3 linked regions of the Homo sapiens genome follow. The protein of the gene in region 2 interacts with the protein of the main gene of each other region in a pairwise test. Each region holds a gene or a part of one and is shown on either strand. Other genes may lie near its edges.

Evidence for each region.
Region 1: the proteins of THSD7B (region 2) and PIGP interact in binary tests that used the Homo sapiens proteins (3 or more experiments, as listed by UniProt).
Region 3: the proteins of THSD7B (region 2) and SPACA1 interact in binary tests that used the Homo sapiens proteins (3 or more experiments, as listed by UniProt).

Annotation. Positions count from the first base shown.
Region 1 is NC_000021.9:37,066,340-37,070,092, reverse strand, and holds part of PIGP (phosphatidylinositol N-acetylglucosaminyltransferase subunit P), read left to right. Parts: intron 1-468; coding exon 469-541; intron 542-2,712; coding exon 2,713-2,831; intron 2,832-3,753. UniProt on the Homo sapiens protein: Part of the glycosylphosphatidylinositol-N-acetylglucosaminyltransferase (GPI-GnT) complex that catalyzes the transfer of N-acetylglucosamine from UDP-N-acetylglucosamine to phosphatidylinositol and participates in the first step of GPI biosynthesis.
Region 2 is NC_000002.12:136,763,914-136,767,666, forward strand, and holds the start of THSD7B (thrombospondin type-1 domain-containing protein 7B precursor), read left to right. Parts: upstream 1-1,631; 5' UTR 1,632-1,774; intron 1,775-3,753.
Region 3 is NC_000006.12:88,050,790-88,054,542, forward strand, and holds part of SPACA1 (sperm acrosome membrane-associated protein 1 precursor), read left to right. Parts: intron 1-3,156; coding exon 3,157-3,213; intron 3,214-3,753. UniProt on the Homo sapiens protein: Plays a role in acrosome formation and establishment of normal sperm morphology during spermatogenesis. Important for male fertility.

The sequences.
Region 1 (3,753 bases), on a different chromosome or scaffold from region 2:
GCCGAGATTTCGGATTGAGGGAAATAACATTGTACTCTGGGAGATAGGGCAGAAGCTCAGTATGTGGTGGATGAGAACTAGGGTAGGTAAATTTCCCTTTGAGCAATTAAATGTCTATAATTACTTCAACCTTGTGGGGATGAAGTATTGAACACTTACTGTACCTAAAGCAAACTGCTAGGTAATAAGGATTACAACAATTGCTAAGCCATGATTTGTATCCTTGAATTGCTTAAAATATAATGTGAGTTAAGATATTAAAAAAAAAGACTAATACAGTAATTATAAGTATTATAAGAATTGTGCAAACGAGCTAGAAGAACTGAAAGGAGGAAAAAATCATTTCTGAGTTAATCAGGGACACTTCAAAAGAGCTTTTCTGTTTTATCTGAATCTTAATAGATTGATAGATTAGATGTATGTCTTACTGACTTCTCTTCCTCTTTTTTTTCTTTTTCTTTTCTACAGTACTTTACCTCGTGTGGGCCTTTATTCCTGAATCTTGGCTAAACTCTTTAGGTTTAACCTATTGGCCTCAAAAGTAAGTTTAATATATTTCTTAAATGAGGATATAATTAATGCTGTTTTGAGGAGTCATATCATTTCTTAAACCTACCCAAATCTTAAATATTTGTTCTCTTAAAATTCATGAATAGCCATATAGAAATTGAAAGCTTTTTAAAGATCGCTATTGATACATCTCTAATTAAAGATGGTAGCATGAACACACATGTTTATCTCCATCCATTTCCTCCAAAAATCTTGTTAAAATGACCCTACAGGAAAAAAAAAAAAAACTGAAGATACAAACCACAGAAACAATAGTATAGCAGAAAAGAGATATCAACCACATTTTGGAAAGTGGATTGTGATAGGTGAGAGGTAACTGCCTTTGTTTCTGTGATTTTCACGTTGCTGAAGTAGGGAAGCCAGCAAGAATATTTGTGCCTTAGAACTCCAGAATAGCTCAGACATTGGGGTACCAGGTAGCTCTTTAATTCTGGGTTGAACTGAAAACATGTTTAAAGACCATATGAAGTCTTCAGCCTTCAAATCTCCCTCAGCCCTCAAAGCTGGGAGGCCTGCCCTGCCCTCCCCTGCAGAAAACAGGAGTTTTACTCTCTGGCAAGGTTAAGTAAGAGTCTCTAGCATGGGGGCCACTAAGTCTGAGTGTGGGAATGCGGCATCTTACTGAAAACAGGGAAGTAAGTGAAAATCTACATGGCTTAATGAGAAGATTTACCTCCTGCTCCATCTTCCCTCTTGGGGCTTCGAGGCTTATATCACCCTACTGCTCACAGAAAAAGATAGATAGTTCTTTCCTGAGGAAGCTGACCAGCCCGAGAGAAAGGATCTATAATTTCTGACATTTAGAGGACCCCAGTGAAGTGGCCAAGTCTCTCAGAGTGAGGCTCACCAGTTGACCATCCCTGCCCACATACACATAGTGCTTCCAACTCACTTGTTAGCACTTCATTTTTAAATATGAATGGACTACTCTAAGTTACCAGACATTAAAAGAAAGCCTCTAGCATGAAATGAAAAAGCAGAAAATTAAAGGGAATTTGAAGGAAATAGAGATAATGCAGGAAACAGAAAAAAAAATTTAAATAACATAAAATTCTCAGAGGTAAGAAACAATTATAACTATGAAACAAGAACAGAATGCTATGCAAACAGGAAATTACTGTATTTGGAAATTGTAAACATGATAACCAAAATTAAAATTTTAATTGAAAGACTGGAAAATAAAACAAAGGTAATCTCTAGAAGTTAGAACAAAAAAAAATGAAAATATAAGAAAGTATAATCGTTAAAAATTCAAACTATTAGAAGTTCCAGAAAGAGAAAATAATAGAGAACAAATCATTTAAAAAAAAAAAAACATCTGGCCAACATCTCAAGACCCCATTTCTACAAAAAAATTAAAAATTAGCCAGGTGTGGTGGTGTGTGCCTATAGTCCCAGCTACTTGCAGGGCTGAAGTGAGCTCAGCAGATTGAGGCTAGTGATCTGTGATCATGCCGTTGCACTCCAGCCTGGGTGACAGAGGGAAATGCTTTCTCAAAAAGAAAAAAAAAACACTCAATGAAAAATAGCACTCCATGTACATAATGATACTGAGAGGCATAATAGAGTCCTATCAGAGAATTTGAGGCTCTGGTATTGGTGGATTCCTGGGAAACCAAGTGAACAGACAAAAAGATGTAATTATTCCAGAAAAAAAAAAGTTGTACAAGAAAATATATAATAATAATGTACTAAGATCCTCAGTTGCAAAATTGTTTATGTAGGTACAATTATTTCTAAAACCTGCTGCTATAATGAGAAATTGCAATGTAAGTATAGAAGAGGATAGGAGGAGGTTAATTCCTTATCTCCATATTAGGAAGCCTAGAGAAAATGTCTGTAATGGAAAAAAATGAGGAAATAGTAATATGAGCATGTTTTGTAGCAATGAGGAGGTAAGTACCAGAAGACAGCTCAAGTGCTCAAAGCATTTCTTTTTGGAGAGTGAGACCCCAGGGTTGGGATGGTGGGATAGAGGACTGCAGTTTTTCACTGTAAGCCTTGTGGAACTATTTGTCTCTTATGTACACATATTACTTTATAAAATTTAAATTTAAAAAACATGTTGGCTTTGTGACCGACTCTTGAGAATTACAACTTTTTTAAAGTGTCTATTATGTACTTTAATATTCTCTTTGGCAGATATTGGGCAGTTGCATTACCTGTCTACCTCCTTATTGCTATAGTAATTGGCTACGTGCTCTTGTTTGGGATTAACATGATGAGTACCTCTCCACTCGACTCCATCCATACAATCACAGGTAACTTTATATAAAAGGAAAGTGCTGGGGCAATGAAAGAGTGGAGTATTAGCACTTTTACCCAGAAAAGCAACAAAGAACAGGCTGCAAAACCCATGTTGGTGGTGCGCGTCTGTAATCCCAGCTACTTGGGAGGCTGAGGCAGGAGAATCACTTGAACCCAGGAGGCAGAGGTTGCAGTGAGCCAAGATCCCACCACTGTACTCCAGCTTGGGTGACAAGAGTGAAACTCCATCCTAAAAGAAAACACACACACACACACACACACACACACACACACACACACACACGGACAGTAAAAAGAAGCTACTAAGAGAAATAAATACAAACTTATATAAAAGGAAATATTTGCATGAAGGAATTAAGTTCTGATGAATACACACTAGCTATATTCATGGAGGAAATAAATTATAATTAATTATAGCACTGGTTAGCAGGTGTATGTTCCCATAAAAACCACAAGTATATGCTATATGTGTCTATAATATGTTCCCATTAACTTTGCCTGAGAGAAGCTTATCCTGAACAGACACCGTTGATCAAGGGATAGTAAATAGTACATGCAGACCTTGTTCAGAAAAAGGACTTTGGGGGTGTGTATCCTCCTCAGGATCATTGTGTACTCCTTATTCCAATTAAGTGGATAAAAGAGCCACAACACGTTCGTCTGGTTTTATTTTTTTAAAGTTCTTTCAAGTCTAAAGATGAAAATAAATCAGACTCCTGAGCTTGCTTAAATTCTAGAAAGTAAAGTATTTTTTAAGTTCCCTGGTATGATTTTTCAACTTTTCAAAACCTTTATATATTAGCCTCTACAATGTATTTTGAAAATCAATTCTATTATTTTTAAGTGTCTTTCTAATACACTGCATTCCATGCATTCTTGATTGGAATTGGCAGCAAATAGGTAATTTGTGCAAAG
Region 2 (3,753 bases):
TCTGGTTGGCAGCTGATTTATTTTTAAGACAGTGATGTCAGGAAAAAAAAAAAGCATAACCCAGAATGTGACTGTAGTGGGAGAATAGCGATTGCTGTTTAAAATATTAAGTAAGGCTTCCCTGCTTTCAGAACCCATCATCCCACAGCAAGCTGAGTTGAAGCCCCTTACCAATATATTCACATCTTTCTTTACAATGGCACTTACATTCTTTTGATTTCTTTTTATCTGTGACAGATCCTAGCTTCTCTATTTATCTCTTGAATCTAATTTGCTCTATGACATCAAGCTTTAATTTTATCATTATTATTTTGCTTCATTTTAAGCACCCATGGTGTGCCAGGCATTGGATAAAATAGAAAAGATACAATCCCTGCTGTCGCTGGGCTCACACATTTAAAGAGATTTGACAGGCAAAATATCCTGTAATTGGCAATAGGTAGTCCTCATGCTTCCCCCCGCCCCTTCTCCCTTTTGAAGCAACTTCATCTCTCTGAACAAGCTTAAGAAGTTCCCTAGATCAAAGGTGTCAAAAACCAGAAGGGTTTGGAACAAGTGTCAGAGAGTAAGCAAACGACTTTCTGAGCTGTGACTCTGCTCCTCGACTGCCCACGTGCTCTCCGCTGTCTGCACTCCTGCCTCACCTGGGCTGACTCGGACTCTCCACCTCCTTTGCTGCTTCCGGCATGAGCTACCCAGGAGCCTAAGGCGCTCCTTCCCGCAACTCCGGTCCCCGCGCCCCGGGACTGCAAATCCTTTAAACAGAGGCCCCAGAGCTAGGGGTTTTCCCAGGCTCTGGTGGGCGTGGGCTGACAGTCGCTGGGAGCCCCGCAACAGGGGGGATGTCCAGGCAGGTATGCACCCAGCTCCCGGCGTTTCCCGGAGTCACCACAATGTTTCCCTTTCTCTCTCCCCCACGTATGCTGCTAGGGGTACTCCCCAGATAGGATTTTCTTTGTCTTTTCTCCTAGTAACACCGAAGCCCTCTCGTGCCCGGGGACTGCAGAGGAACGCCAGACCATCCGGACCTTGCGGGATGGCTCGGTGTGTGTGTTTTACTGTGTGTCGGAGTGTCGCGCATGTGTGCGTGTTGGGGCGCGTTATCAACAGGGGCCTAGGGCACCCCCACTCTTTCTTGCTCTCTTCCCCCATCACTTCATGGACCTCCGAGGCGCAAAGCGCTCGACCCTCTCCTGGGCTCAGTGGCTTGGGTACTCCGGGCTGAGCTCAGCTGGGGAGTCCCCTTACCCAGCCCGCACCGGCACCCCGAAGCTTCAAAGTTGCGGCAAACAGTTGCGGGGAGCAGAGGAACTGAGGTCCAGGCCAGCGCGCCCGCGGTCGCTCGCCTTGGGGAGCAGGCTGAGCCGAGGGTCGTGCGGGTGCGCGGCAGAGGCGGTAGGAGGCGGAGGAGAGGGGGGAGAAAGAGGGGGCGGTGGGGAACAGCTGCCGGGGTAGGCGAGGCGCAAGGTGGCTCCCCGCGGCCCCGCGCCCCGCGGCTCTCGGACGCACCAGGCAGCCAATGGCTGCGCAGAGGTGTACAGCAGATGGCGTCTGACTGCGCCGTTCCTTCCTCCTCCTCCTCCTCCTCCTTCTCTTCCTCCTCCTCCTTCTCTTCCTCCTCCTCCTCCTTCAGTGCTGAGGAGCCAGAGTCGCCGCCGGGTTGCCAGACGCTGGAATGGGTGGTCTTCCGACACACACCACCATCTTTCTTGCGCTCGGGAAGCTCGGGGCTCAGCGGCTCCCAGAGGTTACGGCGGCGGCTCTGGCGAGACGGGTGAGTGCAAGCACGCGGAGCCCCGAGTCGGGGATGCCGGGCCCCCTGGCCGGCCGACTGGGGCGCGGGGTGGCAGCGCCGGGGAAGGGGGCGCGCTGCCGGCGCAGACTTTGCTCTTTCCTCGCCGGACAGCCATCGTCGCCCCTTCTCCCAGCCAGACGCGGGAACTTGGAAGCGGATCTTCTCGGACGCCTCTGGCTTGGGGCTGCGGGAAGCGTGGGCTGCCCGGGGCGCAGTGTGCGGAGACCCTCTAGGCGGGCGGGGACGCCCCACGCGGCGACCTGAGCACCGACCTCATGCAACGGGACCGAACCTTGGGACCCGGGCAGCAGGAGCTCTGTTCCCTTCACCTCCAGCTTGGTTTGAGGGATACTGATGAAGGAAACCGGGGGTTTCCCGTCCTGCGCGGAGAGCCTCGGCGCCCAAAATCGAAAGGCCGGGAGTTGTTCTGCAGGCTTTGCAAACAGGTTGACTGAGGGTTTCCTTTCCCGTAGCGCTGACTGCGAAATCTGTGCATAGGCGTTCAGTGCCAGTGGAGGATAGCTGAGCAAGCCAAGAAGTTTTGCAGCTTCCTCTGATTTATCGGTGGAGTGTCAGGAGGCTGTAGCAACAGTTTACATTTCCCCTGTCCCTGCGAGTGGCTAGGGGCAAGCTGGGCTCGGACGTGATATCCTGCTGTTTGTGGAGAGGAAACTGGGAACGGGGCTTGAGAGTGAGGGGCAGGGAGGGGGGGACAGGCATATTTTCTACTGCATCGCCCATCTGCACCTGTCCCCTTTGCTGTCTTACATGTCCCATAGTATTAAAGTTATTTGAATAAGCAAATGAACCCCGCTCTTTGGTGACCGCGTATTTTGAAGTTGGAAAACTTTGCAGGGGACGAGGGAATGTTGAGGAGGGGGCGTTAAGCTCTCTCACTCTATCCCTTTTTAAAGACAAGAAAAAAACTTTCGTTGGCGAAGGTGGTACTTTTTTCTTTTGGAATGTCTGAGCTCAGAGCTTCCCATAAGAGGTATTGCGATTCAATACTGTACAGTCAAGGTGAAGTTCCACTAAGATTATGGGACCGTGGCATATTCTACGGAAGATACCAGGGTTCCTTGGCGCTCTGTTCATTGCCAGGGTGGTCTGCTGAAAGCCGGCAGTTTCCCACCCTCAGACTCCTTGGAGCTCTTTAAATGACGGTCTGCCTGGTGTTTCTCAGCGGTACACCTGTGAGTGCTCTGTTATCATGGAAATGGTAACCCATGCAGGTAGGGCTCATGCCAACCAGACTGTGGTGGGGTGTGTGTGTGTTTGTGTGTGTGTGTATACATGCGCGTGCGTGTGAACGTGTGTGTTTGGAGTTTCCTTTTGACAGGTAATCTTTGGATGTCAAAGGGATACAGTTATTTGTCTGGCAGTGTCAGGGCAATCTGAGTTTCTCGAGTAACTAGGAGGAGGTAATCTCCAGGGAAGCCTTTTTGTGCTCTTGACTGTCTACTCAGCAGTTGGTGAAGGCTTCCTGAAAGCCACTTAGGGTGTTACTAACCAAATCAAGAAGTCTTACTCAGTGGTGAGTGAAAGCTCGTGTCTTTGTGGGTTAAAAGCTGTTTATAAAGTTTCTGTCTTGAGGCTTCACTTTGACAGACTGCTGTTTTTAAACCTTAGTGCCATTAATAATAGGAGTCTTCTTTTGAAAAGTAATGTGGCCAGTTCTCTGTTTTCTGAGGGTAGTTGATCTAATCTGGTAGATTCCCTGGAATTGTTTTATTTTCTATCCCTGGGAAGTGTGTGTGTGTGTGTGTGTGTGTTGTGTGTATTTGTGTGTGTGTGTTTTCTTCATCTACCTGCTGAGAGTTGAGGGTTAGAAACTCTTTTTCATGCAAATTTAAGTGAAAAAAATTATGAAGAAAATTCTTCTGACACTGTAACAATATACACAGATACTTCTGAAAAAATTGTAGGTGTCATTGTTGACTTTAAAAACATCGGATAGT
Region 3 (3,753 bases), on a different chromosome or scaffold from region 2:
GAGCAATACCATCATTATGGATGATGAAATATCACAATGTTTCAAGATAAAGAAAAATCATTAAGATATTAGATTTATGGCCAGGGGCGGTGGCTCACGCCTGTAATCCCAGTGCTTCGGAAGGCCGAGGTGGGCAGATCACAAGGTGGAGATCGAGAGCATCCTGGCTAACACGGTGAAACCCCATCTCTACTAAAAATACAAAAAATTAGCCGGGCGTGGTTGCGTGTGCCTGTAGTTCCAGCTACTCAGGAGGCTGAGGCAGGAGAATGGCGTGAACCCAGGAGGTGGAGCTTGCAGTGAGCCGAGATTACGCCACTGCACTCCAGCCTGGGCAACAGAGCGAGACTCTGTCTTAAAAAAAAAAAAAGATAATAGATTTATATCCTTATACTTTTGTTATACCTTGTATACCATGTAATATACCTTTTAAATATATCTTTTATACAAGTATACCCTTAGATTTATAAAAAGGGGCCAATAGACCTACATAGTAATTGCAAAATAGAAAGTTGTAGTCTATACAATGGGTTTTATCCTATACAAATATAACTATATGTTATTTTTGTCTTGGAATACTTCTAAGGAAGAACAGAAGTCATAAAATATCAGCCTTTCAAATCAACTGTCAGAAACTGAAAAACTCAAATTGCACTCTGATGATATATACCAAAAGTTACCATGTGCTGTCCTGAACTGAAGAGAACATTTCAGGATCTGGCCACAACTAAAAGAGCAAGATCATTTTCCTTATCACTGTGGATGCCAGGCTTTTGTTAGTGTAGTCTAAGACCCAGTAGATTTTTAGGGAAGCCTCTGCACATCTTTGATTCCTATTGAATTCACTATTGAACTCTCCATTCGTTTTTAACTGTCCTATCAAATTAAGACCACCCATAAAATAGTTTTGGACAGTTGGCTTTTTAGCTGTATGTGAAGGACTTTTTATTCCTACAAGGTTTCATTTTGTTAGATTTGCCCATTATTTCACCCTGTCATCTTTTAGATCCAGATGTATCATCAAATATATTTGCTATCCTTTCTAGCTTTGCAGAATTCTGGATTCAGTCAGCATGATAACAGCATCTTTTTCCAGGTCATTAATAAAAATGTTGAACAGGACAGAGCCCTGTGACACATCACTCCTACCATGTTGACACCAACTGGTTAATTAACAACTGTGGTCTTAGAGTTTAAACAGTTTCACATAAAACTACTGACATTCAGACCATATATTTTTTTTACCACTCATAGGTTTATAACAAGAAATTTTGACAAATGCCAAACTGAAGTCCAGTTACATACAATTCCACTGACCCACCATTGTAGGATTCCCATTTTTAAAAAAAGTTACTGAGTAAACTAATGGACACTCAATACATCATAGAATATTAAAGCTGAAAGGGACTTTAGAAACTTTCTTATTTAGTCTCATTTTTTTTTTCTTTAAGGAAACAAGTTGGAAGAAATTGAACAACTCTCCCAAAGTAGAATGCCTAGTGATTGACTAATGGTTTTTGAAAAAGGCTTATATTTAAAAGTAGTGCAGCACTCATTCTCTTAGCCGTGTTTTCTATGTTCAGGATTTGGCTTTTAATTTGTGTCTCATAATGTGTCTGTAGAAGGTATCTAAGCATTCCACAATTCAAAATGGATCATCATGATAGTCTAAATCATTTATTTTCGTTAAAGAAATGACTTAAAGTCAATATTGATTTACTTATGTGCATTGGGTGCTTACTGAGTATGCAAGATACTATACTGGGGCTGGGCACGGTGGCTTATTCCTGTAATCCCAGCACTTTGGGAGACTGAGGCTGGTGGATCACTTGAGGTCAGGAGTTTGAGACCAGCCTGGCCAACATGGTGAAACCCCGTCTCTACTGAAAATACAAAAATTAGGTGGGCATGGTGGCGTCTGCCTGTAGTCCCAGCTACTCAGGAGGCTGAAGCAGAAGAATCACTTGTGCCTGGGAGGCGGAGGTTGCAGTGAGCCGGGATCATGCCACTACACTCCAGCCTGGGCAACAGAGCAAGACTCTCTCGGAAAAACAAAAACAAAAAACTATATTTGGTGCTCTTAAGTACAGAATAGTAGTGTTTATGAAGCTATTTTGAGATTTTACAGTTATCAAAATAGGGGAAAAAAACATTAAATTAATAAGTACAAAATGAGTTTAAATTGGGTAATTATATCTTAAGTATGTTTGTAGTACTAAACAATTTATAGAATGCTTTCACACACATTATCCTTATTTAATTCTTACAGCAATCAAATGAGGATTTTCCTTTCCAAATTTTGCAGAAGGGTTAACTAAGCCTGACAGCATTTAATTAAATTTGCTTAAATGCAAACAGCTAATTAGTGATAGAAGCAGCTCTTTGGACTCCAGTTCGATGTGTTTTCCATGCGATTTGTTGTCCTAGGGTACAATGCCTTTTGAAAGTCATCTTCTAACAACTCACTTTATATTTTTTCTATTGAGACTTTCGTCCTAATTTGAGCTGAAGAATTGCTTATATACTATAGCTAGTGGAATTCTATGCCAAACTTCAAATGATTAGAAAAAGAGAAACATATGATTTAGAACCAACAACACTTAATTTCTTAAATAGTGATATATTCCTATACTAACCTTGTAAAGTGTTGAAATAAATTCTTAGAAATATTTAAATTTACCATCTTAACCTGGGAAATGAGTAGAACTAATCTATAACTTTTATCATTTTAATGAACACTGGTTAAGGGCTTCTTTTTGAATGGAAATTATACACTCAATTTTGGAAAATAGAGAATAGAAAACATTGGTTTTTACAACAGATAGGGCTTTGTGTGTTTTTCTGAGACCCTCTATCAAGTTTTGACTCACTATATATCAACTGATGAAAAACATTTTTAAGGTATATACAAAGTTTAAATATAAACCTTCCTATTAGGTTATTTCCTAATTTAATGGACTTCTTTAGAGGTTTGAGACTCTTTTGAGTTAGACAATAACAGTACTCAGAATGGCATTGTTTTCTGATTTAAATGGAAAACTTAAAAAATGTCTGCTGCCCATATCATACACATGTCTTTCATCTCCAAGTAAGAGGTGTTTCACTTAGAAAAGTTTTCATATAATTAAATAATGTATCTTTACCCTTTATGTTTAGTTTCAAATAGGAATGTCGTCAAAGAAGTAGAATTCGGAATGTGCACCGTTACATGTGGTAAGTAGCTTGGAGCAGATGAATAAACCATGTTGTAATTTGCGGGGGAGGAAAGGTAAAAGCAGATAGTGTGCAACTTTGTAACTTGTGTACTTTCATGCATCTCTCATGGATTTTTATTTCTAATAACTATAATGTATACACAAAACTCAGGGTGATTGCTTTAAACTGTAAGATATTTTCAGTTTATAATCTCTAAATCTTATTTTAAGCCAGCTCCCTATTTTTTTTTTTTTTGCACATAAACTGCCTTCACCAAAGTAAAATTTTCTCTATCTCACAGATGTTCAGAAGACGAAAGATTTTCCAATGCATCTCACAGATGTCTTCCCACATATTGTGTTGGCAAATTTATCAAGAATTTGCTTATTTGTAATAGTCCATTCTAAATTCTACATTTCTCCAATTTGCGTGTCATGTTTTGGAGAAAAGATGTATTGGCTTTGTGGGGAGGATAATATTCAAAGAATATGACTTAGTCTGATCATTCCATGGGTAGAAATTGGACATAAAATTTCTCTAACAAGTTTACAATGAAGT